Linked DNA regions of Homo sapiens: regions 1, 2, 3, 4, 5 and 7 are each linked to region 6. Evidence: fine-mapped expression QTL. A gene starts in region 6. Each other region holds a variant in brackets. All regions are shown on one strand. Distances are from middle to middle.

Region 1 (4,069 bases), 210 kb before region 6:
GAGACGGGGTTTCACCGTTTTAGCCGGGATGGTCTCGATCTCCTGACCTCGTGATCCGCCCGCCTCGGCCTCCCAAAGTGCTGGGATTACAGGCGTGAGCCACCGCGCCCGGCCCACATTGTTTCTTAAAAGGAAGACACAATACAACTTTTCTGGGTGACTCAATGTTATCCTTATGAATTTACACCTCCATAGGATGTGGCAACCCAGCTTTGTGGTTACACTTCCGTTTTCTTGTCTCCTCTCTGTATGTCAAAATAACCTCTATCATTCCCACATCTGCTAATGTGATGTGTCCACAAAACCCAGAAATTTAAACATGTTAAAAATAATGTGCTAAAGGCCCAGAAGCTCTTGGTGAGAAGAGCAGCAATACAATATACTACCTTGCTGTGTGGGGTTAGAATAGCTATTAGGCTGGCTCAGAGGCCTTCTTCTCTGATTTCCACCTTAAATTGTTAATGAAACTTTAACCTCCAGATAAGTATGGCGTTACCATCATTGGTTTTGCCATGACTATGGGAATCCTAATACCAGGACATGCATAATTTAGTAGAAAATTAAAATGATAAAAGTATGTGGAGTGTACACTACACTACCAAATAATGTAGGCTACACACACTTTAGCCTATACTATTTATTTATTCACTCACAATAAGCCTTTTCCACGAGTAAGTTTCATCACTAAATTATCAACAACAACAAACCTTTCAAAACACGTAAATTCAGAGCCAAAGTATACAGGCTAGAAAAAGTTGATCTTCTCATGTGAACCAAATATTGACCAAAAAAAAAAAAAATCATGCCCAGTATTATAAACATCTGCTTTGTTTGTGTACCTAAAATATAAACTTATATTGCTCTTTCAGAAGGTCTGTTAAGTGACCAGTAACAGCACAGTGCAAGGTTGAGAGAAAGAATTTGACTGCAAACAAAAGCAAACAGCAAATGTCACATGAATTACCAGTCTTCACAGGAGAAATTCCATCTGTGTCTATAAAGGTTGAGCTTTCTCTTCCTGTTCTCAGAATATGTTAAGAATATAATGATTCATAGATTAGAGCCTGTCACAGCGCCCTGGCCTTGAATTTTAGAATGTTTCATATGCGCCCCCAAAAATCACACCTTCTACTAAATACCTTCCCATGACATTTATGTCCACGGTTCCCTTTCTGGAAAGTGAGGGCCAACAAAATCAGTCAAACTGTGTGGCAACTGAGGAAGAATGTTTAAGAACACTTCCATTCACATCCTGACAAGAACATCAAATATTTTGCAGCTTAGGTAACAGTCCTATTTTAGTAAACAACTGGAATTACACAATCAGTTTAGGGCTCACAATTAAGACTTCTTCAAATATGTGCCCACAGGGGTCTGGGAAGCATCAGTAGTAATAAGCATAAATAACAAGTACTGGCTATTCTTTTGGGGGCATGTAAGCATCTTATGCTGAGTCACTATCACCTTTTTTACTTGGAAACTTCCAAGAAGAAATACATTTGCATTTCAAGTTTCCATCTGGGTCAACCATGAACAAATAAGAATAGAGGAGAGAGACAGAGAGGCCGCCTGGAACGTGAGCTGGGAGCCCGATAAGAATTTCTCCAGCCGTGCCATCTGGTATGTCCTGGCACTTGTCATCCAAATTGCTATTCTCCTGAACAAATTTAGTTTCCCCCAGACAGTTCAGCTTAAATGAGCTCATACTGTCTATCTGACACCTGTCAAAAGAAGAGTGAAAAACTTCTCTAAGCTCTAAACTGAAGGAGGTAAGGAGGCAGAAAGAGAGAGAAATAAGCAGGAGCAAGGAAGAGGGCGAGATGGGATGTGTGCAGAGCAGAAAGAGCTCTTTCTTTGAGTGTCAGTGTATTTTTATGTTCACCTACAAACCTAATGCTGGAAGGTGGGGAAGGAAGGAAAAGCACCACTTCCAATCATATTTGCTGAGAGAAATACGATTGAACACACGAAAAATGAAAATAGTACAAACTACCTTCACT[C/G]TCACCTAGTGTCTTTTTTTTTGTGTGTGTGTCTATTTGTTGTCTATGGTGTTTTGTTTTGTTTTTAGTTAAGAAGGAAGGAAATAGCAGTGGAGAAATGTGATATGCTTTTGACAGCATGACCAATGCACTTTTTCCATCCCAGCTGGAACAGGATTCAGTAACAGGCAAGGGCAAGTGGAGGAGTGATTTCATTAACCAAGTCTTGATTTTGAGGTTTGCGTATCTGCAGATCTGCTTTTTCCTCCCAAAGTCTTGGGAAGCTGCCAATATGGGCAAAAAAATAAAAAGTGATGGTAACGGATTGAAGCTGCCATAGGGCAAATCTCTGGAAGGAGAAATATCATAAATAATTACCAGGAGGGTACTGCCTGTGCCTTTTGCCTTTCGAGTTGGAAGATAACAGAGAACCAAATTTAGTAACTGCTATTTGCCAGAGGAAGATACTGAATAAAGAGAAGGAAGAGGGGGACAAGAGAAAAGGGTAGGAAACAAATGGGCCTCACAGGAATACAATAAAAGATAACTTTCAAAATCCATCTTCCAAAACAAAGGGCCCAAGACTGTCGAGTCCCCTTCAAATCCATCTAATCTCATAGCACATTTGTTTGCAGTTTTCCCCCTTTCGTTTTCTTTATTCTATGGTTTGAAAGTGTCCCCTCCAAAATACAGGTGTTGACACTTATAATGGCCAATGTGATGATATTAAGTGGTGGGGCCTTTAAGAGGGCTCCTCCCCTCATAAATGGGATTAAGGCTTTTATAAAAGAGGTTTCACACAAAGATTTGGTTCACTTGTCCCTCTGTTCTTCCACATGTGAGGACACAGCGTTCCTCCCCTCTGGAGGATGAAGAAATAAGGTGCCATCTTGGAAGCAGAGAACAGCCCTTGCCAGACAACAGAAGCTGCCAGTGCCTTGTTTTTTGACCTCCCAGGATCCAGAACTGTGAGAAATAAAGATCTATTCTTTATAAATTACCCAGTCTATGGTATTCTGTTATAGCAGCACAAATGAACCAAATACTCTACCTGGACTTCTCAATTGGAATACATTGTTTGGTCTCTTTTGCAACCTTTACGAATATGACCTTACAAAGAGACTTACCTACGTATTTTTCATTTGTAGTTTAGTTATCTCACGACTCTCTCAAGTTGAAAAACAGATAATCAAAAACCTTTTTTTCAAAATGTCCTGATCAAGTTACTCAGGTGTAAAATGTGTCTAAAGCTCCCTGCCTCCCAAAGCTCTTGTAAGGGTCCAAATGAGGTGATATTTATGAAGCATCCAAAACATAAAAGCTATTGAGTGTATGCTAGCTCTTTTCTTTACCCCTCTCTGAATTAAAAGGTTCCTAGAACTTACAGCAGAAAAAGCTAGATCAGTAAAGGGCAATATTTGGATATGAATCCACAAACTTAAGTTTTCTAAAGGGAATAAATCCAATTAAAGATAAAAAGCGGCCAGGTGCAGTGGCTCATGCCTGTAATCCCAGCACTTTGGGAGGCTGAGTGGATGACCTGAGGTCAGGAGTTCCAGACCAGCCTGACCAACTTGGAGCAACCCTGTCTCTACTAAAAATATAAAATTAGCCAGGTGTGGTGGCACATGCCTGTAATCCCAGCTACTAGGGAGGTTGAGGCAGGAGAATCGCTTGAACCCTGGAGACAGAGGTTGTGGTGAGCCAAGATCTCACTGCTGCACTCTAGCCTGGGCAACAAGAGCAAAACTGCATCTCAATAAATAAATAAATAAATAAATAAATAAATAAATAAATAAAATAAAATAAAATAAAATAAAAATAAAAATCAGTGTAACACCTTAATGCCTTTTTGGAGTATTTACGAGCATCAGAATCTCTTTTCAAAAGGATTGCAATGAGCAGTATTTTAAATACACCATGATATTATGGATACAGCTGGAACTAAGCGACTTGAGGTGCATAAGCAATGGAGATCTATTTCACAGCTTCTTTCCTTAGTAGGCAAATAGATGACATTTTGTCAGCCTTGCCTCCCTGGAGATTAAAAACCAAGCCCCAGAGGAAGGCCAGGCAGCTAACACTAACAC
Region 2 (4,069 bases), 400 kb before region 6:
TTAATATATTTATTTGAAGGGCTATAATATACCAAGCTATTCTGTTCTCTCGAGGCATTGTTATTACCAACAAAAGTGACTAATAAGTAGAGTAACCATTACTTAAGTTGCTATGTAGGCCAGGAAACTTTTGAGAGTGAAAAGGGATTCTATTAATGATTATGTCAGGACAATGGGTACAAGCTGGACTCTCAAGCAAATCAGGACCAAAAGGCTACTTAAGCACAATTTTTCTAATTTTTTTGAAATGGGGTCTTGCTACGTTGCTCAGGCTGATCACAAACCCTGGGCTCACGCAATCCTTCTGCCTCAGCCTCCCAAGTAGCTGGGATTACAGATGTGCACCACCACGTCTGGCTTGTTTTTCTGATTTTTTGCATCTCCTGTTTCTGCCAGTATAAAATTCAAAAGATAAAATACCATATTTCCCTAAATGTAAGAATCACAGTATTCTCCTTTTTTAGCATTTTGGAAATTGGAATGTATCTTGTTATTGATGCATTCCATAAGAAAGTTACCAAATTCTAGGCAAATAAACAAACATATTCATTGTATTGTATTCATATATTCATTGTCATTGTTTGTCCACATGCAAACTTCATCACACAGAAAGGGCCCTGGATAATGTATTTTACACTTCACTTATTTACACTGGTATCAACACAGATCATTAAATTTTAAATTACAGTCCATAATTATTGATTAAAATTCTTCATTATATTTTGATGTACACAGAAGATTGATTTTCATGTGTGAGGCAAAACAATGAAAAACAATAGAAATCGCCAAATCTTCAGAATAGACTCTAGAGTGTTCAAGGTGAGCAAAGACTGGTGTAGCCAGCCATGAATCATGGAGGCCTCCCACTCAGGTACTAAGCAATTTGCCAAAAGCTCCCTTAGAGTTTCAGGAGAAGCTATATGGCTTACAGAAATATTAAAATTAAAAATTAAGTGTAAAAAACTTGGCCAAATTGAAAGTACAGAGGAAAAACGTGTTCAATATGCCTTGTAATAGGCTGCCAACCACAAGGGTACACCTTTAGCACCTTGTCAAAACAAGGAGCATGGGTGACACAAAGTGGCCTGGCACCTTAATGCCAATGCTTCACTGCTAATGACCAAAGGGTTCAGAGACATCTGCAGACTCTGGATTGAAGGTATTTTAGACATGGATTGATTCTAAAAACAAAAGTGTTGGGCACTGTATGATATTGTCAGTTTAAAAACCCCTGTGCATTTAATGTAGTTTTATTTTTCCTGAAAATTTGTATTAATTTTAATCGCACCACTAACAATTGACGATCCTTAAATCAAAGAAATGGAGAACTGAATACCTTCTAACCCATCTCAATGTGTCACTATTGAGTTTCCACTCCCCTTCCTCAAGCTCTACTATTTTCTAGTTTAAATTTGAGAATGCAATTATTTGACATTCAGTTGTTCTAACTGGGGAGCTGTTAATGGTGGTTGTATTTTAAAAATAAAAGTAAGTTTATTTCACTGCAATTCATAATCTGATTGCTTTGAACCACATTTAAGAAAAGCAGTACAAGCCAGACTGTCGCAGCTGGCAGCTCTGCCCTTTGACATCCTTTGGGTCTCCTTCTCAGTAATAATGTACTCACATAAATATCACTGTCCTATATTAATGGTAAAATATCTGCTGAAGGAAGGAGGTGTATTATACACATAAATTTAAAAGGCATTTTTCACCTAATCAGAGTAGTCATAAGAAAAAAGCACTTCACTCCACTTGAAAATTTCAATATTATAAAGTCCAGAATTGCTGGTTCTTATAAAGACGATGCTAATTTATTACTTCACTCATGTCACTTCCATGTAATGAAATAATTAGCTGGGAAATTATATTTGCATTCTCAACACTTTTGTACAATAGGAATGTCAGTATAATTAGGCATTAACTACAATTTCAGAGAATTGAAGGTAGCAGCTTTGTGTACAAGTGAATATTTTTTTTCCCTTCATTTGCT[C/T]CATTCTTATCTTGGTGATTCAGAAAAAGATGTTTAAACAGAGCCTTTCAATGAAAGCCATCACAAAAGTGTGCCATATTAAGGTAATTGCCTACAAGATGAGAAGATAGAAATCTTTCTGCCAAATTCTTTGGAAACCAATGGGCTTCATGCCTGAGGCACCAACAATTTGTTAAATTTTTGAATATGTCCTTCATTCTCATTTTCCGTTCCACCTCTGTTGTATTAGGCTTTGGCAGCTTAAGCTCTCTAAAAGGGGCAGCTCCTGATCACAGCCACCTTTCATTGAAGAAGAACAAACACCAATCCATTCTGGCAGGTGCAGTTTTCCAATACATTCAGAAAACAGTTTGGGAAAGAAAGTATTAACAAACTGAGCTCTCAACTGTGAAGAAAAGAACATGTTAAAGGTTACAAATAGTTTTATCTCCTGAACAAGGAAAGAATGAATTAGAGTCCACTTTTTTAGAAACTAAAACAAAACAGTGTTAAATTATTTGTGCTTTGAGTTTAGTTTGCAAGTAATATTTAAATGTCTCTTTTGCAATTCAGAATTCATCCCATCTCCCAGTCATTGATCCTTCCTTAGTGCTTTCATGCAAGAACTACTAAGGCAACTGGGATTAAGGGACTTTAACTTTTGGAGACCTACAGCTACTTTCCTTTATAATTGCTCCCCCAATCTTCTAAATTGTATTACTTTCTTTTATAATTGCTCCTCCAATCTTCTAAATTGTATCCTTCAATGAAGAAATCACTAAGTGGACCTGGCCAGGAATATTCTCATTGTCTGATAGTGTTAAAAAATACTGACATACGTAAAATCTCTATCCTTGGAGATCTTTAAATATAGCACAGGTAGGGGTCCATTCTGATGTATCCCTGTCCTTGGTGTTTCGGGAATGGTTATCCTGAAAGAAGAAAGCCAGACTTGATTTTTGGAGGGTCTTCACATATAGAGTGTCTAAGCTCTATACACATGGGAAAGATATAAAAACAGACATATACATGCATTATTTCCATCTCTCAAAGGTTAGGGTTCTATTCTCACTTTTATTTGAAGATGAAGGCAGTGAGAAATGTCCTAGAGTAGTATGTTAGGGTGCCTCCGCTCTGAACGCAGTCTTTTGAATAGTGAAATGATTTTAACATTTATTATTATTAGAAACAGTTTTTCATATCATTAAAAGATCTCTGAACTTTTTAATTTTTCTGTATTGTTTAGCTAAAACTTTACCTAGAAAATGCCCCAAACTAAAGGAAAATTACACAGATGACTGAAGTGAAGTGTTGTTGGTTATTTTTTTAAAACTCATTGTAGCAGGATTTATAGAATTAACTTCGTGAACAAATACAAATATTTATTTTTATACCAAGAAAGTGTGAATATAAAACATTGAGAATTACTAGTGACAACTGATGTCTGCATGGTTACACAATATCCTTTGGCCATTGTATAGAATTGATACCATGCTATATGTGTTTTAAACTAAGCACCTTGAAGCAACTTCTCCTTTCATCTATTTATATGTTACTGATTATCCAGCATTCCTAAATATGCTGCTATGTATGTCCTTCAGTTTATGACAAATTAGTAGATATCTACATTTAAGATGGTGACAGAGAAGTATGTGGTCATAGAAGTCATGGCTGAAGTCCAAGTTCAGGCTCTGCACCTTATGGGCTGTGCTATGCAAACTTGGGTACATTCTTCACTTCTTTGAGCCTCTGTTTCTTCATGTGTGAAATAAGGAAAACAGTACATGGTCTGGCAACCACCAGGGTCATTACTATCATCAATGACTTGATGTCCACGAAAGCGTAATTTATAAATGATCACATAGATGCAAGAGATTATAATGCCATCTTTTAAATGGTAAGAACTTGTTACATATTTGTTTGGGAAATGGGACCTTTCAAAATTCTTGGTGGTTTCTTTTCTCTCTGTAAATCTATCAAAACAAAAATCTCTAGCACTGAAAAAAAACAAATTACTTTTCCTTACGTGGAAAAAATGGGTAATTTTCACAAAGCACTTTTCTGTCTGTCTACTATTATGTTCCTTTCCCTTTGACC
Region 3 (4,069 bases), 420 kb before region 6:
ACCTACAAATATCTGATCTTTGACAAAGCTGACAAAAAAAAAGCAATGGGGAAACGGTTCCCCATTTAATAAAGGATGATGGGATAACTGACTAGCCACATGCAGAAGTTGAAACTTGACCCCTTCTTTACACCATACAAAAATCAACTAAAGATTGATTAAAGACTTAAATGTGAAGCCCAAAACTATAAAAACCCAGAAGACAACCTAGGCATACCATTCTGGACATAGGAACTAGCAAAGTTTTCATGACAAAGATGCCAAAAGCAATCGCAACAAAAGCAAAAGTTGACAGATGGAACCTAATTAAGAGTTTCTGTACAGCAAAAGAAACTATCAACAGAGTAAACAGACAACCTGCAGAACAGGAGAAAAGTTTTGCAAGCTATGCATCTGACAAAGGTCTAATATACAGCATCTATAAGGAACTTAAACAAATTTACAAGAGAAAAACAACCCCATTAAAAAGTGGGCAAAGGACATGAACAGAGGCTTCTCAAAAGAAGACATACGTGTGGCCAACAAGCATATGAAAAAAAGCTCAATATTACTGACCATTAGAGAAATGCAAATCAAAACCACAATGAGATACCATCTCACACCAGTCAGAATGGCAACTATTAAAAACTAAAAAAAGTACATGCTGGTGAGGTTGAGGAGAAAAGGGAACACTTATACAATGTTGATGGGAGTGTAAATTAGTTCAACCATTGTGGAAAGCAGTGTGGCGACTCCTCAAAGACCTAGAGACAGAATTACCATTCAACCCAGCAAGCCCATTACTGGGTATATACCAGTTAAGGGGAAATAGAAATCATTCTATATTATAAAGACACATGCATGTGTATGTTTACTGCAGCACTATTCACAATAACAGAGACATGGAATCAACCTAAATGCTCATCAGTGATAGACTGGATAAAGGAAATGTGGTACATATATACCAGGAAATACTATGCAACCACAAAAATAATGAGATCATGTCCTTTGCAGGGACATGGATGGAGCTGGAGGCCATTATCCTTAGCAAACTAAGTCAGAAATGGAAAACCAAATACCACATGTTCTCACTTATAAGTGGGAGTTAAATGGTGAGAACACATGGACAGATAGAGAGGAACAACACACACTGGAACCTACCAGAGGGTGGATGGTGGAAGGAGGGAGAAGATCAGGAAAAATAACTAATGGGTACTAGGCTTAACACCTGGGAGAGAAAATAATCTGTACAACAAACTCTCAGGAGGCAAGTTTCCCTATGTAACAAACCTGCACATGTACCCCTGAACTTAAAATAGAAGTTTTTAAAAAGTGGAGCTAGTTAGCAGTTTGGCTGTTAGACCCAACATTAATGAGCAGCCTGATGAGTTGGACACTGCCCTGGGCTCAGTCTGTTGTATTCCTGATTCAGCAACTGATACACTGGGCTACCAAGGCAGGTGAATGGCCTCTCCCTCTGTCCCCAAGTCATGTTACTTTGGTCCTTGGCTTCTGCATCTGTAGGTTGGGACAAAAGCTTGAATAATGAGCCTGTCCATATGAAGCTTCAAGCACCTTTAAAGAAAAGGCCTTTAAACCAAAGCAAAAATGGTTGCATGAATTGAAAACCAGGGCTTCTAATAATGTGTTCATTAAGTGTTTCCTG[G/T]TCCTCTTTAACTACAAATGAACAGATGTCCTAGGGACAGGGGACTTCACAGTTTGTGAATGCCATTGTGCAATGTCACAGGATGTTGACAGGAACATAGAGAATAGTGTAAATAAAGAAGGTTTCAAAGGTGCCCTAGGCTATATATGTGGCAGCCATTTTAGCAGAGAGATCAAGAGTGTGGGCTTCTGAATGATCCAGACTGGGTTTGACCCTCACATCAACCAATCTTTAGCTGTAATGGGGATGATAATGGTACCCAGCTCATGGAATTGTCAAAAACAGTACATTGTAAAGGCTAGGGCATAACTAGCACTTGGTAAACAGTAGCATTACTGTTGTTACTGTTCTTGGCACTGAGCATCAACACTTCTCAGATTTTCAAGGATGGTCTCAATATAAGCCCTTCTGTTAGCTGATTACAACGATGCTAGGCAGCATTTCTGTGATGTTTCCTACGAGCCAGACACTATGTGTAACGTCTTACAGCTCATCCCATGAGTGTGCATGATCATTCTTTAAGTGCTCTTATATTTCTCATCTGACAGATGAAGTAACTGAGGTTTAGTCAGGTTGACTAACTTTCCCACGGTTACCTAGCTAGTTAAGTGGTGCAGCCAGAATTCCAACCCAGAGGAATTGCTTCTACCTCCTAAGCAGTGCTCTCAACCTCTCCACTGCTGGGTCTCCTGAAAGTCACTTCTGTCAGGCCACAAGTCCTCACTTTTAATTCAGAAATACAAAGACCGTAGTTAAATGTATACATTAAAAACTTTTTTTCATGATCATAACACAAGGTATACTTGGACAGAAGTTGTTGTTCCTGCTAAAAAAGTAATTTGTTTAAGCCAAGAAAGAAATGAAAACAAAAACAAAAATCTCTTGCTCCACAATTTGCTTCCAACTATAAATAAAAAGCCTAAAATAATAAAACATCTTTTCAAGCCAAATAAGACAGGATGTGTAGATATCAGTAAACCAGAATTCTGGCATAGGTATAGAAATGTTTGATTTCTATTCGTGTAGAACTTTTTAAGTTGCTGCTTACATGATGGCAGCGTTTTATTGTTTTCTATTTATATATAAACATCTCCATATGTTTTCAATAAAGAACTAAGAAAACAAACTACCCACCGTCCATGACACTGCTTTTTCTCTACATTTATGGAGTCATTATCTAATTGTTAGCACATGGTGAAGGAGTTGGGACAATGTCTCTGCACAAAGAAACTGGAATGAATAGCTGTCACTGGGATGTTAGAACTGCTGCTTCTCAGGAATATATTGTCACGAACATCCTTATTCCTTAGTGTGCTATGTGTGGGGACACACTCAGTATAGATTTGAAAAGCTGATTATAGCTAGTGACAGGGAGCAGAGTAATGCTCATTTCACCCAACTCATTTTAGCACATGTAACAAGATATTCATCCTCTTGTTTATAGGGTGTAGGAAGAAACCAACTTCTAGAGGCTGAATGCTTTATTGCTGAGATAACCAGCACTGATTGAGACAAGCTGAGGCACATAGAAGAGGAGGCTGAGCAGCTCAATGATAAACTCAGATATTATCTGTAAACCCCCTATTTTGTTCTCTAAATAAAGAGAAGCTGCTCATTATTAGGAGCCATGAAAACTGTCATTCATTACCATGTAATATACATAATGCAATGTAGAGGAATGCTCCAAGGTAACCTCTTATGGTCAGATCATAGGATTAGTTAATATCTGCTCAGGGTTGAGGATTCATAATTGTCTTGTGCTACAATCACATGCTGTAACACTTCTGTTCCTTTTTTTAAGGGTCAGGCTACTCTGCCAAAGAACAATTTGGTTACCATTAGCATTCTTTGGGTGCAACGCAAGATTCAAAAGAAAAGTGTTTAAAATACATATTGCATGTTTTAAAATACTTCCTAATATAAACACAAGGATGATGTTTTTGTTTTTTGCTTTTATAAAATTCTAGGCTACTTTTCAGAAACATAGACCCAAGTTCAATAATAGCTCCTTTCTCTCCAAATTTGGCTTCTTTGTTTAAAAGTTTTTTATCTTCTCATAACCTAGAAAAAATAACTTATGAGACCACCATGGAAAAATAAATGAAATAAACGTATTTTCTCATGTTTCTCAACATGTCTTTGAATTTGACTTAAAGTGACATTGAAGTCTCAAGATCAAGTGGAAAGAAAAGAGACTCCTAACTATTTGAATTAATCATGTAGCCTCCTCAATTTATTCTTCAAAGAAGTAAACTCCACACTGACACAGGGCAATCAATTTTAGTAACTCTTTCTTGCCCTGTAAATGTAAATATTTTACAGATAATGGTGGTGATGCTGTTTGGTCAGGTGGTAGGCTCAAAACAAGTTCTCAAAAGCAAATCATCTTACAATGTGTGTGCTGAGTTGCTGCAATCCTGTTTT
Region 4 (4,069 bases), 200 kb before region 6:
ATATTTCAAAACAATTTAAATGAAGCTTGATAGCTAATTATCTTAAGGTCATGCTTAAGAACCAAACCACCAGGACATCAAAAATCTGAGATTGTCTAAAGGTGAAGAATGCAACATTAATTTTTTTCCCATTAAAAAACAAAGGGAGTGGGGAAAGCAAGCTTTTTTATTCCCTGAGAATAACTGGTTTTCAAAAATCATCCAAAATAGACCTCTTAAGACATTTCACCTCTGCTCTGAGTGTTTTAAGCTGGCCCTCTGATTACAAAATGTTCATGTGAAATCTCATCAAGATGCTTTCTTAACATGAAGAATGTTTTATAAATTGTAATGGCTTTAATCAGCACCCTCTTTGAAGCTATTTAACTCTATGATGTAGCCCACCCATTGCTTCAATTATGTCATTTATCAACTCTGTATTAATTAAGTATCATTATAGAGATTGATTTATGTACTTTTTCATGTCTCTCTCACCAGATGGTATAGCATTCTCCCTCTCTGACACTCCATAAACATCACCTGGATTCACTCATCTCTCTCCCCAGCTGAATGTTTAATCAGCTCTTAGTCATCTTCAAACTAAATTGCTCCTCTTCCTCCTCCTCTTCACTATACTCTGTCAATACAGTACACAAAGGCCAAGTGATATAAAACATCAGCCAGTAGTATTTCCAAAGCCAAGCCCTATCAACAACTCATTCCCACCTCAATGAGTTCATACCCAGTGTGGTGATGCAATTTTCACAGTAAAGTGAAGAGAAAGTCTTTTGCTTCCTTAGCTGATTAAAAGTCGCAGTCCCTGTTCAACTATCTGGGGCAATGGAGAAAATAACTAGGAAAAAATGTATGTGTGGCAGTGGGAATACAACAAACAGTTTGGCCTCAGTAGAGTTACCTTTTGAATTATATTTTACATGGGCTAATATAAAAATTACTTTGCATTCTTGAGCTCGCATGCTAAGAAAGCAGGAGGCAGAAGTCCCAAGGTATTGCAAGAAAGCCAGCCTAGAATTTTAAACTGCCTTGGGTGATCTAAAAAGCGGACAACAGAGAAATGGAAATGCTGAACTGTTTTTCTTGCAAAATATAAAGACCAGATTAATGGGACTATCTTACAGTTGCCTCGGACTCAAAATGTCTAGAAACCAAACTGGCTGGTTTCCCTCCAAGCCAGCTCCCTCTCCCGACCCCTACATTTCTTATTCTCCTGTCCCCAAGCTGGGATCCTTAGAGCAGGGATCATCAGCTCAAATATCTACAGGACTCGAATAGGCAACATAAATGAATAAAGTATATAAAAAAAGAGGGGAAAACTTGGCAGATAAGAGGGGGGACATCCCATCAACAAGAAGAATTTGATGGCTAATCTGCTCAGCTGAAGTTTGCCCAATGGAACATACAAGATATATCACCAAATCTGGTTTTTCTCTAAAACCACAAATCCTTATTGTTATTTGAAACTTAAGATTTTTAAATTTTGGGCTGAACTAAATACAGATTCATCCCATAGATTTTAATCCTTGCCTATCAACTTGGACCCCTACTCCTTCCCCCTTTGAATACAATCAATCCCCAAGTTCTAATGTTCTCATACTATGCCTCCTGCTGATTTCTTTCCATTCCAATTGCCATCATCTATGCCCTCATTACTTCATATCTGCATTATTAGAGGAGTAACCTGTCCTTCCCTGTCTAATGCATGCTATGCACAATGGCCAAATTGATCTTTCTAAAACAGTAGTTCTTAAACTTTAATGTGTATCAGAATCACCTGGAGGGCTTGTTAAACCAGATTGCTGGACCCCACCCTTAGCTTTTCTGATACAACGGGTATTAGGTGGGGCCTAATAATTTGCACATCAATAAGCTCCTAGATAGGTTGATGTTGCTATTCCAGGGACCACACTTCAAGAACCACTGCTGTAAAATTCACCCCATATCTTTAACACATTCCATGGTTCTCCATTTCCTCCACATTAGACTTAAAACTGCCTAATCTGCTACCCTGAATTCTTCAAGCCTGGTCTCTTCCTCTCACCCCAGAATTGCATTTCTCTGACCCCCTAGGAGGCCTGGCTCCAGCTAAACTGATCTGCTTGTGTTTTACCCAAATATATCATGCAGTCCCACCTTGCTTTGATATTTACAGAGAGTCTTTCCACCTCCTTTCTCTTGGTCAATTCTGCCTTTTTATTGAACACACCCCAAATCCACATTGTCAGTGCAACCAACCCCAATCAGATTTCTGTTATCTCCTCTAGATTCCTATAGCATTAGCTCTCCAGGTTGCTTGGTACAATCTAACAGCATGGAAGTTAGAGCCAGAGACT[G/CTG]AGTTTGAATCCTAGTTCTTTCATTAGATGTGTAGCATGATAAGCCATTAATCATTCTGAACCTGTCTCTCCTTCAGTAAAAGAGATACCAATACAGTATCTACTTCTATTGGGTTACATAAAGAATTAATTGAGACAAACTCTTTAACCCTTTAGAATAGTACAAAGTTGGTGCTTAATAAATAGTAATTTCCTTTCTTTATCCCTTTCCCCCAATCATTCACTTAGCACTAAATATAAAATAAATAACACTAATCACTTACATGTTCTTACCCCCTTCTCTTTTGGCTACATAAAAATATTTCTTGAGGACAAAAAACACATGGAATTCACCTTAGTAATCCTAGTACTCGGAAATTTCTGAGCAACTAGGAAGCTCTCAAGAAATATGTACTAAACAATATGATAAATTAGAGAAATAATGCAAGACAAATTGTTCCATAGAGAAGCTTTCCTCTGTGGGACTTAAATCTCTAATTAATTGCATTTATTCTTAAAACATATTTCCCAGGACAAAAGCAAAGAAAGGTATTTTACCATCAGAAAAACTAAAAAAGCTCTAATGGGGGGGTCTCAGTTGATAATGGTGATGGAAAGAAGTGTCATTAGAAAAGCATTAATAAAGGGAATATCTCCTAGAAGTAAAGTTGAGCCCAAGAACACTAATAATGGCAACACAGAGAATAACAATAATGAACCTGGAGACGATGCTGACAACAAGCAATGGACATTTTTTCAGGACATCTGTCATGCAACTGTGTGACCACTGCAGACCCAAAATGGCTGATGATATTGATGATTACACCACAAAGTGTCCAATCAAACTGGTCAAATCAAACTACCCTCCAGGGGATTCTCAAATTTTGAATCCAACAGCAACAAATCATAATATATATATATATATATAATATAATGTTCTCTAGTGTTGCTGACCTCTATAATATTTTTAGATGAAATCCAGTATCACCCACTCCCATAGAGGTGAAATGCTTTTCAGAGAGAAGGGAGCTATTTTCCTTAATCAGCAACTCAAAACATCTTTGTTCATAAGTGTAGTGGCAGAAAAAATGTATAATCTGGCATATTGGGCATCTGAATATTTTCCTCCAAATGCAGAGCAAAGTACCCTAAAAGTTCAAGTTGTTTCAAACTTACTATACATGGGTTACATAGTTCGGACAAAGAGCACCAGGAACCGGGTCAGCTGGTTTGTTACGAGAGCCCTGCCATGATTTACTCTACATCCTCAGACAAATTCATTCCTTCCGTAGACATTTCCTAAGTTATTACCATGTTTCAAACATTATACTAGATGATAGGAATCCAGAGGTTAAAAAATACACGTAATCAATGTCTTTCTGGAACTTAGAGTCTAGTGTGGAGACAGGCAATTGGGGCAGACTGGGCAGTATTTCACCAAATTCACTTTCCTTTCACCCTGGACATAAAGATAGGCCAAATTTCCTAGCCTCCATGTAATAGCATTCTGCCCAATAGAATGTCAGCAGAAGTGAGGTGTGCCATATCCAGGCCTAGATATGGATAACCATGGAAAATCTCCCTCTAGGTTATCGACTTTCTCTCTCTATCCCCTTATGCGTCAGATGAATGCAGAAGACTCTGCAGAGAACTCAGATCTCAAAAATGATAGAGCCACAGATGGAAAGGAGCAGAAGGCCACATTCTGACCACCCCCTTGAAACCATTATGTGAACATGCAAAAGACTCCTATTGTGTGA
Region 5 (4,069 bases), 410 kb before region 6:
AAGCACTTTCAGCATTTCTGGATTGTGACAGTATCCCCATATGCCTTATTTGATCAAGTACTCTTTACAAATATTAGTAAAGATGCTAACCACAACTTTAGAAATAATTATATTTTCTTAGGCGGGCCTTTCCTTCTTCTTTTTCAAAAGAAAATTAGCAGGTTTGAAACCTTATGAAAAACAAAAGTACCAAAATATGAACTTCAGGGCTCCTTGGTCTGCTCAAGTGACTTCATGCCCTACTTCTGCCCAAGCCTTCTGTGACTACCGTCCATACCCCTCCCTAATTTGTTGGCCTATTGCACTTCATTCAATTTTTTTTAAATGCCTGCCTTGCTCCTGCAAAAATTTAAGGCTCTCTACAAGAAAATGTCCAAATACTGTACTAAAAGAGTAGGTAAATGTGCTAGAACCAAGAAAATGCCATGAACACAGGAATCACGTGTGTGGATCTCTGCCATATCTCTAGATTAAATAACAGAACTAAGCACATAGTAGGTGAACAATAAATGTTTAAGGCAAAGGAAAAGTCACAATTTGGAACATTTTGACACAGCCTTAAAAGCAACTTGAGGATATAATTTAGCTCTAGCTTGTGGCTGCCAATGTGAGAGCGTGATTGATGTATTACTGAGCTCTCATTATCTAGGAAGAGAAAGTGCACCACCATCTCCTTGAAAAAAGCAATATTTTTTTCTAGCGCTCAGTTCTAAGGGGAGTAATTACATGGCTCTTTATATGAGGAACGCTGGACAAAATAATGGACACAGTCTCCAATAACAGTTTTACAAAAGATGCAGAAACACTTTTCCTAACACTATTTCTTACATATTGATCCTCAATTAAAGCCAAAAGCAAAATATTAAGTCACATTTCAGTAAATGTGTTTTTTCAGGAAGCAAAATGTATTTATTCAACAGTTATTTTGACGTAAACTTGAGTGATAGGGTGACTATACATTTTTGTTTGCCCTAGGAAGTCCCAGTTTACATCCCCTGTCTTGGTGTTAATTAACAGAGCCTCCTTTCTCTTGCAGACATTTCCTGGTTTTAATAATAAATCATATTTCCAACCTACATATGAGGGTATCTATATATGAAGATGACTAAGATAGGGTTGCTTTCCTAAAGGAGGGGAGAGTTTACCAGCAGAGGCAATAACTGGCTAATACATTAAATGTGATGAGTTCTATGAATATGTACAAAGAAGGGAAAGCAACTACTGAAAAATGTTGGCAAAAGCTTGATAAAAGAGGTGATGTTTGGCCTCAGCAAATACCCTAGACTGAAAGTGTTCCCATGAGAGCAGGGATCTTGTTAGTTCATCAGCATATTCTCAGAACCTAGCTAACGGGCACTTGAAAATACTTGTCAAATGAACAGATGACTTTATTCTAAGCATCCAACTAATGTCCAGAATGTAGCTTTCCAAGAGAGGATCAGAGCTTAGGCAATCTCTAAAAGGATAAATATAAGCATGTTCTGTAGAGTATCTCACTCTCAAACATTGGTTGTCCCTCCTAGAATTTTTGTAGGCATTAGCAAAAAATTTAAAGTGGAAACCATTAGTGAGCACCAAATTTCAAACCTGTGATGGAGCTGCACTTGACATTTGTTTACTCCTGGAAATGCATTCTTGCCTTGGCTTCTGGAACCTCAGACTCTTGGCTCTTTTTATGCTTTACTGGATGATCCTTCTCATTTTTCTTGGCTGGTTTTCTCATCCTCCTGACCAATAGAAATTGGGGTGCTCAGAAACAGACTAAAGGCCTCTTCTTTTCTCTATCACACTTACTGTGTTGGAACCCTTATTTAGGCTCATGGTTTTAAATAAATCTGTATGGTGATGAGTTCCAAATTCATATTTTCATGCATCTCCTGAATTCTACACTCATATCCCACAGCTACTCAGTACCTCCACTTAGATGTCTAATTGTGTATTAGTTTCCTATTGCTGCTGTCACAAATTACCACAAAGTCACTGACTTGAACAACACAATTTGTGTGTGTGTGTGTGTGTGTGTGTGTGTGTTTTGAGATAGGGTCTCACTCTGTCACCAAGCCTGGAGTGCAGTGGCATGATCTTGGCTCACTGCAGCTTTGGCTTCCCAGGCTCAAGCAATCCTCCCACCTCAGTCTCCTGAGTAGCTGGGACTACAGGTGCACCACCACGCCCAGCTAATTTTTTTGTGTTTTTATAGAGGAAAAGTCTCGCCAGGTTGCCCAGGCTGGTCTTGAACTTTTGGGCTCAGGTGATCCACCCACTTTGGCCTCCTAAAGTGCTAGGATTATAGGCATGAGCCACTGTGCCCGGCCTAAAAATTTATTCTCTAACAGTTCTGGAGGTTGTAAGTCTGAAATAAGCCTTACAGGGCTAAAATCAAGGTGCTGGTAGAGTTGGTTTCTTCTGGAACTCCTCTCTTGCTTGTACACCCAAAATGCAATCTATCAACAAATCTTGTTGGCTCTATTTTCAACATAGACTTACTCTCCGACAACTTCCCATCAGTTTCCCTGTTCTGACTCAGTCCAAGCGACCACCAGCCTTCAC[G/C]TGGAGTACTGCAGTAGCATCCTGTCTCCGTTTCAGCCCTTGCCTTCCTTCAGCCTATTTAGAAAATGGGAGAAATGATCTTGGTCAGGGAGAATCTGAAGGTGAGAGTTGAGTTATTATTTATTTGGCTTTATGACTAAAGAAGCCTCAAGTTGTCTACAGAATATGGACTTGAACCTCAAAAGGCTGAAAAAGTTAGCCACAAAACCATCTCTATCCAATTACATCAGCTGACTTATTGAAGGAAAGGTGGTGCAACCAATGGCTTTAGGAACTGGTGGCAACAATAGCCCTGGAGAAAGGAGAGAGGGGAGTGAGACATCAGGAGGAGGAAGAAAACAGTTCAGAGAGACTGATTCCAGTGAGGATCATGATGATGTGATAAAGGAGGCTTGTGGAGAATCCAGACCCTAGGACCAGGGGATCTTCAAGATGAAGAGACAGAGCCTCTAAGGGCACTATATTCCCTGGAGAGCAAAACCAACAATCACAGCATTGAAAACATAGAAGCTGAGCTTCCATTGGACAGGGGGACAGGGGTGTTGTGAGAGGGTAACTATTATTTTCCATTCAGATGGAGCATTTATATGAAGAAAACTCCATGCCTATGGCTATCTGTAGACTTCCCCCCTGAACTCTATACTTAAAACATTTTGTTATTTCAATAACTTTAGGGGTACAGTGGTTTTTTGGTCACATGGATGCACTGTATAGCAGTGAAGCCTGGGATTTTAGTGCACCCGTAACCCGAATAGTATACATTATACCCAATAGGTAGTTTTTCATCCTTCATTCACCTGCCATTCTCCCCCTTTCTAAGTCTCCAGTGTCCATTATACCACCCTGTTTGTCTTTGCATACCCATGGCTTAGCTCCAACTTATAAGTGAGGACATGTGGTATTTGGTTTTCCATTCCTGAATTACTTCACTTAGAATAATGGCCTCCAGTTCCATCCAAGTTGCTGCAGAAGATATTATTTCACTCTTTTATGGCTGAGTGGTATTCCGTGGTATGTATGTAACACATTTTCTTTATCCACTTATCTATTGATGGACAGTTAGGTTTATTCCATATCTTTGCAATTGTGAACCATGCTGTGATAAATGTACATGTGCAGGTGTCTTTTTGATATAATGACTTCTTTTCCTTTGGGCAGATACCTAGTAGTGGGATTGCTGGATAGAATGGTAGATATACTTTTAGTTCTTTGAGGAATCTCCATACTGTTTTCCATAGAGGCTATACTAATTTACGTTCCCACCAGCAGTGTATGAGTTCCCTTTTCACCACATCCACGACAACATCTATTGTTTTCTGATTTTTTAATAATGGCCATTCTCCCAGGGGTAAGGTGGTATCTCATTGTGGTTTTTATTTGCATTTCCCTGATGATTAGTGATGTTGAACATTTTTTCATATGTTTGTTGGCCATTTGTATATCTTCTTTTGAGAAATGTCAATTCATTGAACTCTATACTTTTTACCAAACTGCCTACTTGACCTCTCCACATGAAAGT
Region 6 (4,069 bases):
ACAGCAAAGAAGAGAGCAGAGACAAAATGCTATGGGAGGTGAAGTAAGCAGAACTCCATGAAATCATCTGTAATTTCACCTTCTAACCCTGATACAAAAGAATCCCAGAGGTTTAACTCAGGCAGGGTTCCTAGCTAAACATCTTCATTTTGGAGATTAAGAAATTAAAACCTAAAGAGATCAAGTGGCAAGTCCAAGGTCATCCAGCTCTTCTGGAACCTGGACCTGGCAAGTAAGAACGGCTGCAGTGACCAACTGTATTAAAGCTATGTGCTAAGCCTATTTGTTTACAAACAGATAAGCGTCTTTCTGGGCCTTATGTAGCCTTCTTCAGTCACCTGCAAATCAGCCAGCACCTGTCTCAGGAAAACAGACAAGATTCTTAACAACTCTGAATTCAAAAGAAAAGCCTGGTTTTACAAACAAGTCAGAGTCATATGGTTCTGCCTTCAGAGTCACCCTTATCTTTAAGAAATACATGAAATAATATTATAGTGACAATGATTCTTTAAACGTCCAAAGTAGAAGTGAACAAAACACAAGCAAGAAAAAACCTAGGCATATTTTGTTTTAAGCAAACACATATAGCCAAGTCCAACAAAAATGGAAATACCAGGGGGCGTTTCCAGAGACCATTTGAACAGCATAGAACTCTTTTTAAGTGGTCCCAATCAGAATGCCTCCATTTGCAAAAGTGCGACATTCACACAACTTTTTGGAAAGCTATCAAAAAACAGGAGTTGTAAGCCTGCGTCTCCACTGCTTCCACTTCATACATCTTTATTTTCACTCATGCACTGATTGATTCAGCTGTATCTCGTATGCACTCATTTATTCACTTACTCATTTGTTAATTCACTCAGTTCTACGGCATAGGTACTCATTCAATTACTTATTGAGTAGCTCTGAGTCCTAAGTCAGATGGGACTTTGCCCTCATGGAACTTCGATTCTAGGAGAGTCCAGTAGCAGAAACTAGACGCATCAAAAGCGAAAGTACACGGTAAAATGCGAAAGGAACCCCAAAAGAACTGCATAAGGCATATTGGAGGCTCAGGGGGACCAGGATTGTTTGCAGATGGGGGATGAAGGGGGCGGCTTGGGGCTGAGCCCTGGAGCTGAGGGGAAGTGAAACCGTGTTGGGAAGGACGGCTGAGGGCCGTGCTCGCTGCTGTCCCGCAGCACCCTCCACCACCCCCACGTCACAGCTTCCCCATTTCTAGGCTCGGTGACTCCACTGTCACCGAAGGGGCAGCCACAGGCTCCCAACCCGCCGCTCCCCAGCCAGGTCCTCCCGTCACGCCCCCGAATGAGCGATGCTGGAAGTCCGTCCCCCTCTGCCCCCGCCCCTGGCCTGCTCCAGCCTCAGCCCGCCCGACCCCCGCGGGTAGGAGCCAAGGCCTCGGCCCAGCCGCCCGCGGGCACTGCCAGTTCGGCTGCAAACACACCTGATAGGGCGGCTCTGACGGCGGCGACGGAGGCGGCTCCCAGGACTAAGCTCGCGGCCTAGCCTTACGGTGGCGGCGGCCACACCCCTGACTGGGCTGGGGCCCTCCGCGCCGCCCCGTGACTGCAGCCCTGCTTGCCGGCCAGGCCGCGGGGCCGAGAGGCGGGGCAAAGACCTGACTCGGGAAGCCGGGGCGGGCGCCGGGTTCGGGCTGGGGGCCACCTCCGGAACGCCTGGGGGGTTCTCACTCGCCCTCCAAGGGCGACCTCAGGGCCACAGATCGGCCGGAAGGCTTCTCAGCTTCTGGGCTGTGGCTCCTGTTAGAAAATTGAGTGTCGCCCTGGGTCCCGAGCCCCTAGGCCTGACTCCTTCGTGCAGGGGCGTCGCCTTCAGACTGGGTGGTGCGCAGGCCAGGGCCGCGTGCTTTTCAGAAGCGCAGCCTCAGGCGAGGCGGGCGGCAGGGGCCTGAGAAGGCTCATGGCTTGGCAGAAGGGTCCTGTGCTTCAGTGGGTGCCCGTGCAGGTGGAGAAGGACGGGGCTGCGAAGCTGAAAGGAAAACGTGAAAGGTTTTTGTGTGTCTCTGAGCCTGAGTAAAGGCCATGCTTTCTGAGCTGTCAAACGCCTCCCAAAGGGAAGAGATTATTAAACCGTTTTCCCACCCTGCCAGGTGTAGGATTGTTAGGCGGTGATGATGGAAGGCAGAGATGACCCGAACTGAGAGATCAGAAAAAGCGTTTTCTCTTTCGTTTGTGCCTGAATTATATGAGGGTGCCCAAGAAGAAAGGAGACTCATCTGATTACCCGGTGTGGCTTATCTCAACAAGTCACACGCATTCTGGTCACAGAGTATGTGCTCAGTGTTTTCAATGCTTTATGTTTTGATAAGTGCAAATTCCTTTGTTTAACGAAACTCTTATCAAATACAAACAGTTATCTTTGTGAAACACTGAGCAGTTCCAGTCTCTCCTCTTAACTAAAAAAACCAAACAGAACTTTTAATTAGAAAAGAAAAGAAAGAATAAGCACATGCCTACTGGGAAAAAAAAAATACCATAAAATGTGCAAAGTCCACTCACCTTCGGTTAACAGTCCCTCTAAACCTTACTAGTCCTGTTGCCCACTGAAACAAGTGTGAACTCTGAGGCATTGGAGGGTCCACATAAACATGGCCCTGGCCCACCTTTCCCGAATCATCTCTCGGATGCCATATCTAACCCCACTGAATTACTTTTTTCTCAAACTATCAAGGGTAAAAGACAAGTTTTTATTATTTCCAATCTGACATGGACCATTATTTCTGTAAAATACAAATCAAAACCTGCTAGCAAATAAGAAAAGAGACAAAAACTACAAGCCCAGTTTTTATTACAAGTGTACAATGAGTATGCCAAAAAGTATAAAATTAGTTTTTCAATTATTGGTTGTTGTTGTTGTTTTTATTTCTAAATGCTTACTCACAATTTCTATACTTACCTGTTCATGGAGCAGTAAAAAGCTGTTCACTGACTGGCGGTGGTTGGATTACCGTTTAAGTGGCACTGACTTGCTGTTCTTTAATTATGTCAAATGCTTTTCAACTTCTGGGCCTTTTCTCATGTTTAATGTGAACGAAGTTCTTTCCCACTCAAGTTTCAACTCGTAATAACAATAAAAGCTTCACATTTATTGAGTGCCTTGTGCTAAGATTTTTGATGCATTAACTGTGAATTCTTATTTGTCCTATGAGCTACCTATTATTATCATTATTATTTCCCCCCACTGTACAGATAAGGAGATGGAGGATTAGAGAGGTCAAGTCACAAAACCAGTGAGGTACAAAGTCAGCATTAAACTGAGCTGGCCTGATTCTGGAGCCCAAGCAATCAACCAACATGCTGGGCCCCTCTCTGTGAAACCTCCCCCATTTGCTTTCAAGTTGAAATTAATCACTCTTGCTTACACCTCTACTCTAACATTTTTTCCCGTTGGTTTTCATTCATGTCAGCTTCCCACGCTAGGCTTTAAGCTTCTGAGTACAGTGAATTTGTCTGCTCACACTAATCACAGGAAGCAGAGCTCATTCGCATCTTTGCATTACCACTATCTTTTATGCTTACTTCATGATATGTTTTAATTATTTATTCTTGTCAGCATCCTCTACTAAACCATACAATGTTCAGAGTTATCTTACCAAAGATGCTTTTATTTATTTAATTGAATAAGCATTTCTATAGCATGTATAATGAGCCAGGTACTATTCCAAGAATTTTAAAACCTCGCAAATAGACCTATAGATATTATTTTATCCCTCTTTAAACTGTGAGGAAACTAAGGCATAGAGAGGTTGCAGTAAGTTGCAGGACCAGAATTCCAAACCAAGCAACCTGCCTGGCTCCAGAATCTATTTCTGAGCCACCATGCTATGTTGATTTTCCACAATACCATGTGTTCTTCCTACTTAGAACACTTCACTGCAGGGAGATCAATCCATAATGGCCAATTAGAAGCCCCTGCCCGCAGCACTCAGGGAGGAATGAGAAGGGGCAAGTGAATTCAGTACCTTCAACTGAAATATCCAGGTTCTCTCATTGGGACTGACTAGGCAAACCACCGGCCCATGGAGAATGAAGAAAAGTTGGGCAGG
Region 7 (4,069 bases), 530 kb before region 6:
GGGCTGTAAAGCGTCTCAGGGTTGCTGCCAAACGAGCCGTGAACTGGGCTGGATTTTTATATTTGATGAAAAACAGCCTAAACGCTTCTGATTTGGGATAAAGAAAAAGGAGCATTAACCTTGACTATGCCTTTGGCTCCAGCCACCTTTTTAAGAATAAATTGCTGGGCAGGTGGGGGAGGGCTAGTCACGGAACGAAACTGTAAGCCGGACCAGGTGTGAGGAGGGGAGGCGATAAAAAGATTATAGGGTAGAGGAGCGGAGGCTGAGGAAGAATTGGGACCTAGCTCGGCCTGGCGAGGAGGGGAGAGGTCAGATGGGTCTGTAGAAAAGGAAGATTAGAAAGACTCAGCGATGCTTGGGGTTGGGACTGAGGGGACAGGCGGGAGGGAAAGAAGGAAGATTTGGGATGAGTTGCACTGGGCACAGAGACTAGGAAGGGACTGATGTGTAAAAGAATGCCTGGACGTCAGGCACCTCAGGCCATTTGCCCATTTTACGACAAGAATTATTTAGATCTTGTAGGATGGAAAAATTGAAAGTGCCGTTTTCTGGCTATTTGGAACTATGTCGAGTTTGTATTGGGGTTAAGCGTCATTGCAGAAGAAAATAAGGCATTTAGGTTTTAGGTCAGGTGTGAGTTGAAGAGGTTTTAAGTTCTTGAGAACACAGGCTAAGGGAGAAGAAGGAGGAATGGAGGATGGAAGGTTGCCCATAGTGAAGGAGGCAAACCCAGAGAAAAGAGGGTGTAGAGACACGGAGGGAAGGGTTTTGGGGGTTCTTACCCTCCAGAAAAGTGGGAAGGGGGGGTGGGGCATGGAAATAAGGGATTGGGGCACAGAGATAAGAGGTTGGGGTACAGAAATAAGGGATTGGGGGTTCTTGCCCCCTAGAAAAGCGGGACTTGCCACTAAAGGTGAAGGAGAAGGGGTTGAGGGGTACTTGCCCCTCCCCCAGAAAAGCAGAGAAGGGGTAGAGACACTGAAGAAGGGGTTGGGGTACTTGCCCCTCCCCCAGAAAAGCAGGACTTGCCGCTAAGGGTGAAGGAGAAGGGGTTGAGGGGTACTTGCCCCTCCCCCAGAAAAGCAGAGAAGGGGTAGAGACATGGAGAGAAGGGGTTGGGATACTTGCCCCTCCCCCAGAAAAGCGGGACTTGCCGCTAAGGGTGGAGGACCAAGGCAGGCCTCCCTATGTGGTCTGACACCTTTGAAATGTGGGTGAATAATCAGAGAGGTGTCTCTGCAATGATTAAACACCAAGGGAAGTCTGTCTTCCCAGTCCATGACCAGTGCTGGAGTTTTGGGTCCACGGATAAAACGTGTCTTCTTTGTCTCTACCAGAAAATGAAAGGAATTGAAATTAAGAGAAGGGAGAGATTGAAGTGTGGCACCAAGATTGAAAGGAGAAAGAGGTTGAGGGATAGTGAGGGAGGTTGGAGAAGAGAGTAAAAAGAGGCCACTTACCGGATTTGAAATTGGTGAGATGTTTCTTGGGCTGGTCAGTCTGAGGACCTGAGGTGGTAGGTGGAGCTTTCTCATGGAGCAAAGAGCAGGAGGACAGGGGATTGATCTCCCAAGGGAGGTCCCCTGATCCACCAAATTTCATGCGCGTC[T/C]GTGTGAAGAGACCACCAAACAGGCTTTGTGTGAGCAACATGGCTGGTTGTTTCACCTGGGTGCAGGTGGGCTGAGTCCAAAAAGAGAGTCAGCGAAGGGAGATAGGGGTGGGGCCGTTTTATAGGATTTGGGAAGGTAATGGAAAATTACAGTCAAAGGGGGTTGTTCTCTGGTGGGCAGGGGCGGGGGGTCACAAGGTGCTCAGTGGGGGAGCTTCTGAGCCAGGAGAAGGAAATTCACAGGGTTAATCACTCAGTTAAGGTGGGGCAGGAACAAATCACAATGGTGGAATGTCATCAGTTAAGGTGGGGCAGGGCCTTTTTACTTCTTTTGTGATTCTTCAGTTACTTCAGGCCATCTGGGGGCATACGTGCAAGTCACAGGGGATGCGATGGCTTGGCTTGGGCTCAGAGGCCTGACAATAGGCAGAAGCCAGGGAGGCCAAGGAAGCTAAGTTTCATCCAGGATCACAGTTCTTAGCCTAAGTCATATCATAAAGAAAAAGTTGATATCCTCTGATCATTTATGGAGAAAGAATGTTATAAACTGAATTTTGACTTTTCTCACAAATTCTTCCTTGTGTGGCAAGACCAATGAGTATGCTCGTGTTGTGTGGGCAGTTCCACTTTTAGAGGAGAATATTTGAAAATAATATGGCAGCTCCTGACTGGTGATTTCTGGTTCTCTCAGGTCTTGCATTTTCTCTTTTTAAAATAGCATCCTAAATAGAATTTGAATCCTAACTTTATAAAAAATAATAATAAAATAAAAAGAGGAAATATTAATTCAAATCATGTCATGTCCCGCTTTCAACCCTCCAATCCAAAGTCTTAGCAAGGCTTATAAGGGCCTACCTGGTCTGCCCTGCCCACTTCTGACTTCCTCTCACTATTACTGGCTTTATTCTTTCTAAGATGAAGTTAGGCATTTAAATTCATCAAATCTGAGGAAGTGGCTTATCTGTTTCTGTATGTAAGAAATTATCTCCCTTTTTTGTTAAACAGTCAGATGAATTGTCAGTATTAATGCCTGGACTATGAGATTTGAATCTGAATGAAATAGCCTAGGGAGGCAGGGAAAGAAATACAGTGAGGCATTCATTTAAAAAATATTCATTTGACCTTATGTACTAAGGTGAATGCGGGTAGAAGTTCCTGAAGCCAAGTTCAGATGTGACTTCCTTTCCTAAAGAGGCCCAATTAAGATCATATATCAGGTTGGCTCCTTCATTTGCATGTGAAAAGGCACAGTTACGGATGTAGCGGATTGTTTGCATGGCAAATTATAAGGAAATGTTTCTTCCTTCTGCCATCAAGACACTGTTTCAGCCATTTCCACATTAATTTTGTAGGCTGGAAAGCTCTTGTTGCCATTAATTATATCTGGGCAAAACTGGATTGAGTGGAGATAGGTTGGCAACAAAATAGGATGAGGCAGAAAATCTTGCAGAGTATCTCACCAGTTGAAAGAGCAGGGAAAGGACAAGTTTGAAATTATCTGTGCAAAGAATCCAGCTCCTTGCTGAATCTCCACTTTCTCCATGTCTTGCAGGTGATGTGTGGTTCCTAAAGGACTTCTGTCACTGTGCTTGCCCGAGGTGCAGTTAGAAAACCAGTTCTCTTGCTTTGTGCTGCATTTAGCCCAGCCAGGTTGGCAAAAGTTCGTAAAAGTGACCCCATTTTGTTCTCTCTCCCTTCAGATTTCAGTTTTGGCATAAGTTTTGGTTGGCAAATTGCATTCTACAATGAAAACGTTTTCTTACATTTAACCCTAAGTTGGCTTGAGATGGGCATAACCAGTCCTGATGCTGAAGGAAATAGTTAGGATATTAGGTCCTAGATTGCAAGCAAACTCAGTCCCACATCAGAGCCCAAGGAATGAAGCATCATACCTCAAAAGGCGCCCTAGACTTGAGCCCTCTAGACTAGCAGAGCAGATGCTCGTGACTCTTAGAAACTTCTGGGTTGAAAAAGAAATTTCAAATTCTTGGAAGCAACCTTCCCCCTACTTTCTCACAACAAATCCCTGACATAAACACAAAAGACATAAACATCTACTTAGCTATAGAAGAGTGGAGTTGTTATATAAGAATAGCTGTATGAGTTTAAAAGATGGGCTAATAAATTTGAAGGACAAAATTGAAGTCAGAAGAACTAGAAAGATGCAGATTACATTTTTTTCTGAAACATATCGTAGGGTGAAAAATAAAATAAGACAAGGGTTTTGGGCTGAAATATGCTAAGGACTTGCTGAACCCAAGCTCTGCATAAAAGCAGTTCAAGATGCTTATGTATGTGAGTATGTACATCGCTCTTTTTTTCTTTCTCTAAACCTGCTGCTGGAATCCACCATCCTGTCCTTTTTCATAACCTTCTCTGCAGGACAGATAGTCTCTCCCAACTGAGGCTCCATTTGCCTTGCCAAATCCCATTCTGAAAATTCAGCTTTCCAAATGG

Direction of the effects. Positions count from the first base shown, and alleles are read on the strand shown. Sizes are in standard deviations (SD) of each study's normalised expression. Not every link is listed here.
For the expression in gastroesophageal junction of the gene that starts at base 1,608 in region 6, CTG is the high allele of the variant in region 4 and G is the other (small effect, 0.14 SD a copy in GTEx).

What was found. PIP is the estimated chance that this variant, and not a neighbour inherited with it, causes the effect.
Region 1: its variant is fine-mapped to the expression of CPQ in whole blood (INTERVAL, PIP above 0.99).
Region 2: its variant is fine-mapped to the expression of CPQ in whole blood (TOPMed, PIP above 0.99).
Region 3: its variant is fine-mapped to the expression of CPQ in whole blood (INTERVAL, PIP 0.97).
Region 4: its variant is fine-mapped to the expression of CPQ in gastroesophageal junction (GTEx, PIP 0.98).
Region 5: its variant is fine-mapped to the expression of CPQ in whole blood (TOPMed, PIP above 0.99). The same link has a PIP of 0.9 or more in blood mononuclear cells and lung.
Region 7: its variant is fine-mapped to the expression of CPQ in whole blood (TOPMed, PIP above 0.99).

Annotation. Positions count from the first base shown.
Region 1 is chr8:96,850,295-96,854,363 of GRCh38, reverse strand. All of the region lies in intron 3 of CPQ (carboxypeptidase Q), which reads right to left. Among named protein-coding and RNA genes, the nearest start is that of CPQ, 210 kb to the right of the region's middle. The variant C/G (reference allele first, on the strand shown) is at 2,001.
Region 2 is chr8:97,046,873-97,050,941 of GRCh38, reverse strand. The region is part of intron 6 of CPQ (carboxypeptidase Q); the gene reads right to left. The region is part of intron 2 of LOC101927066 (a long non-coding RNA gene); the gene reads left to right. Among named protein-coding and RNA genes, the nearest start is that of TSPYL5, 230 kb to the left of the region's middle. The variant C/T (reference allele first, on the strand shown) is at 1,994.
Region 3 is chr8:97,059,712-97,063,780 of GRCh38, reverse strand. The region is part of intron 6 of CPQ (carboxypeptidase Q); the gene reads right to left. The region is part of intron 2 of LOC101927066 (a long non-coding RNA gene); the gene reads left to right. Among named protein-coding and RNA genes, the nearest start is that of TSPYL5, 220 kb to the left of the region's middle. The variant G/T (reference allele first, on the strand shown) is at 1,646.
Region 4 is chr8:96,838,262-96,842,330 of GRCh38, reverse strand. All of the region lies in intron 3 of CPQ (carboxypeptidase Q), which reads right to left. Among named protein-coding and RNA genes, the nearest start is that of CPQ, 200 kb to the right of the region's middle. The variant G/CTG (reference allele first, on the strand shown) is at 2,331.
Region 5 is chr8:97,054,064-97,058,132 of GRCh38, reverse strand. All of the region lies in intron 6 of CPQ (carboxypeptidase Q), which reads right to left. The region is part of intron 2 of LOC101927066 (a long non-coding RNA gene); the gene reads left to right. Among named protein-coding and RNA genes, the nearest start is that of TSPYL5, 220 kb to the left of the region's middle. The variant G/C (reference allele first, on the strand shown) is at 2,551.
Region 6 is chr8:96,642,781-96,646,849 of GRCh38, reverse strand. It overlaps CPQ (carboxypeptidase Q), which reads right to left and starts at 1,608. Exons shown (of 8, transcript NM_016134.4): 1 at 1,448-1,608. RefSeq lists a silencer at 1,184-1,733.
Region 7 is chr8:97,172,994-97,177,062 of GRCh38, reverse strand. The region is part of intron 2 of LOC101927066 (a long non-coding RNA gene); the gene reads left to right. It overlaps LOC105375655 (a long non-coding RNA gene), which reads right to left. Exons shown (of 2, transcript XR_928434.3): 2 at 1-4,069. Among named protein-coding and RNA genes, the nearest start is that of TSPYL5, 100 kb to the left of the region's middle. The variant T/C (reference allele first, on the strand shown) is at 1,613.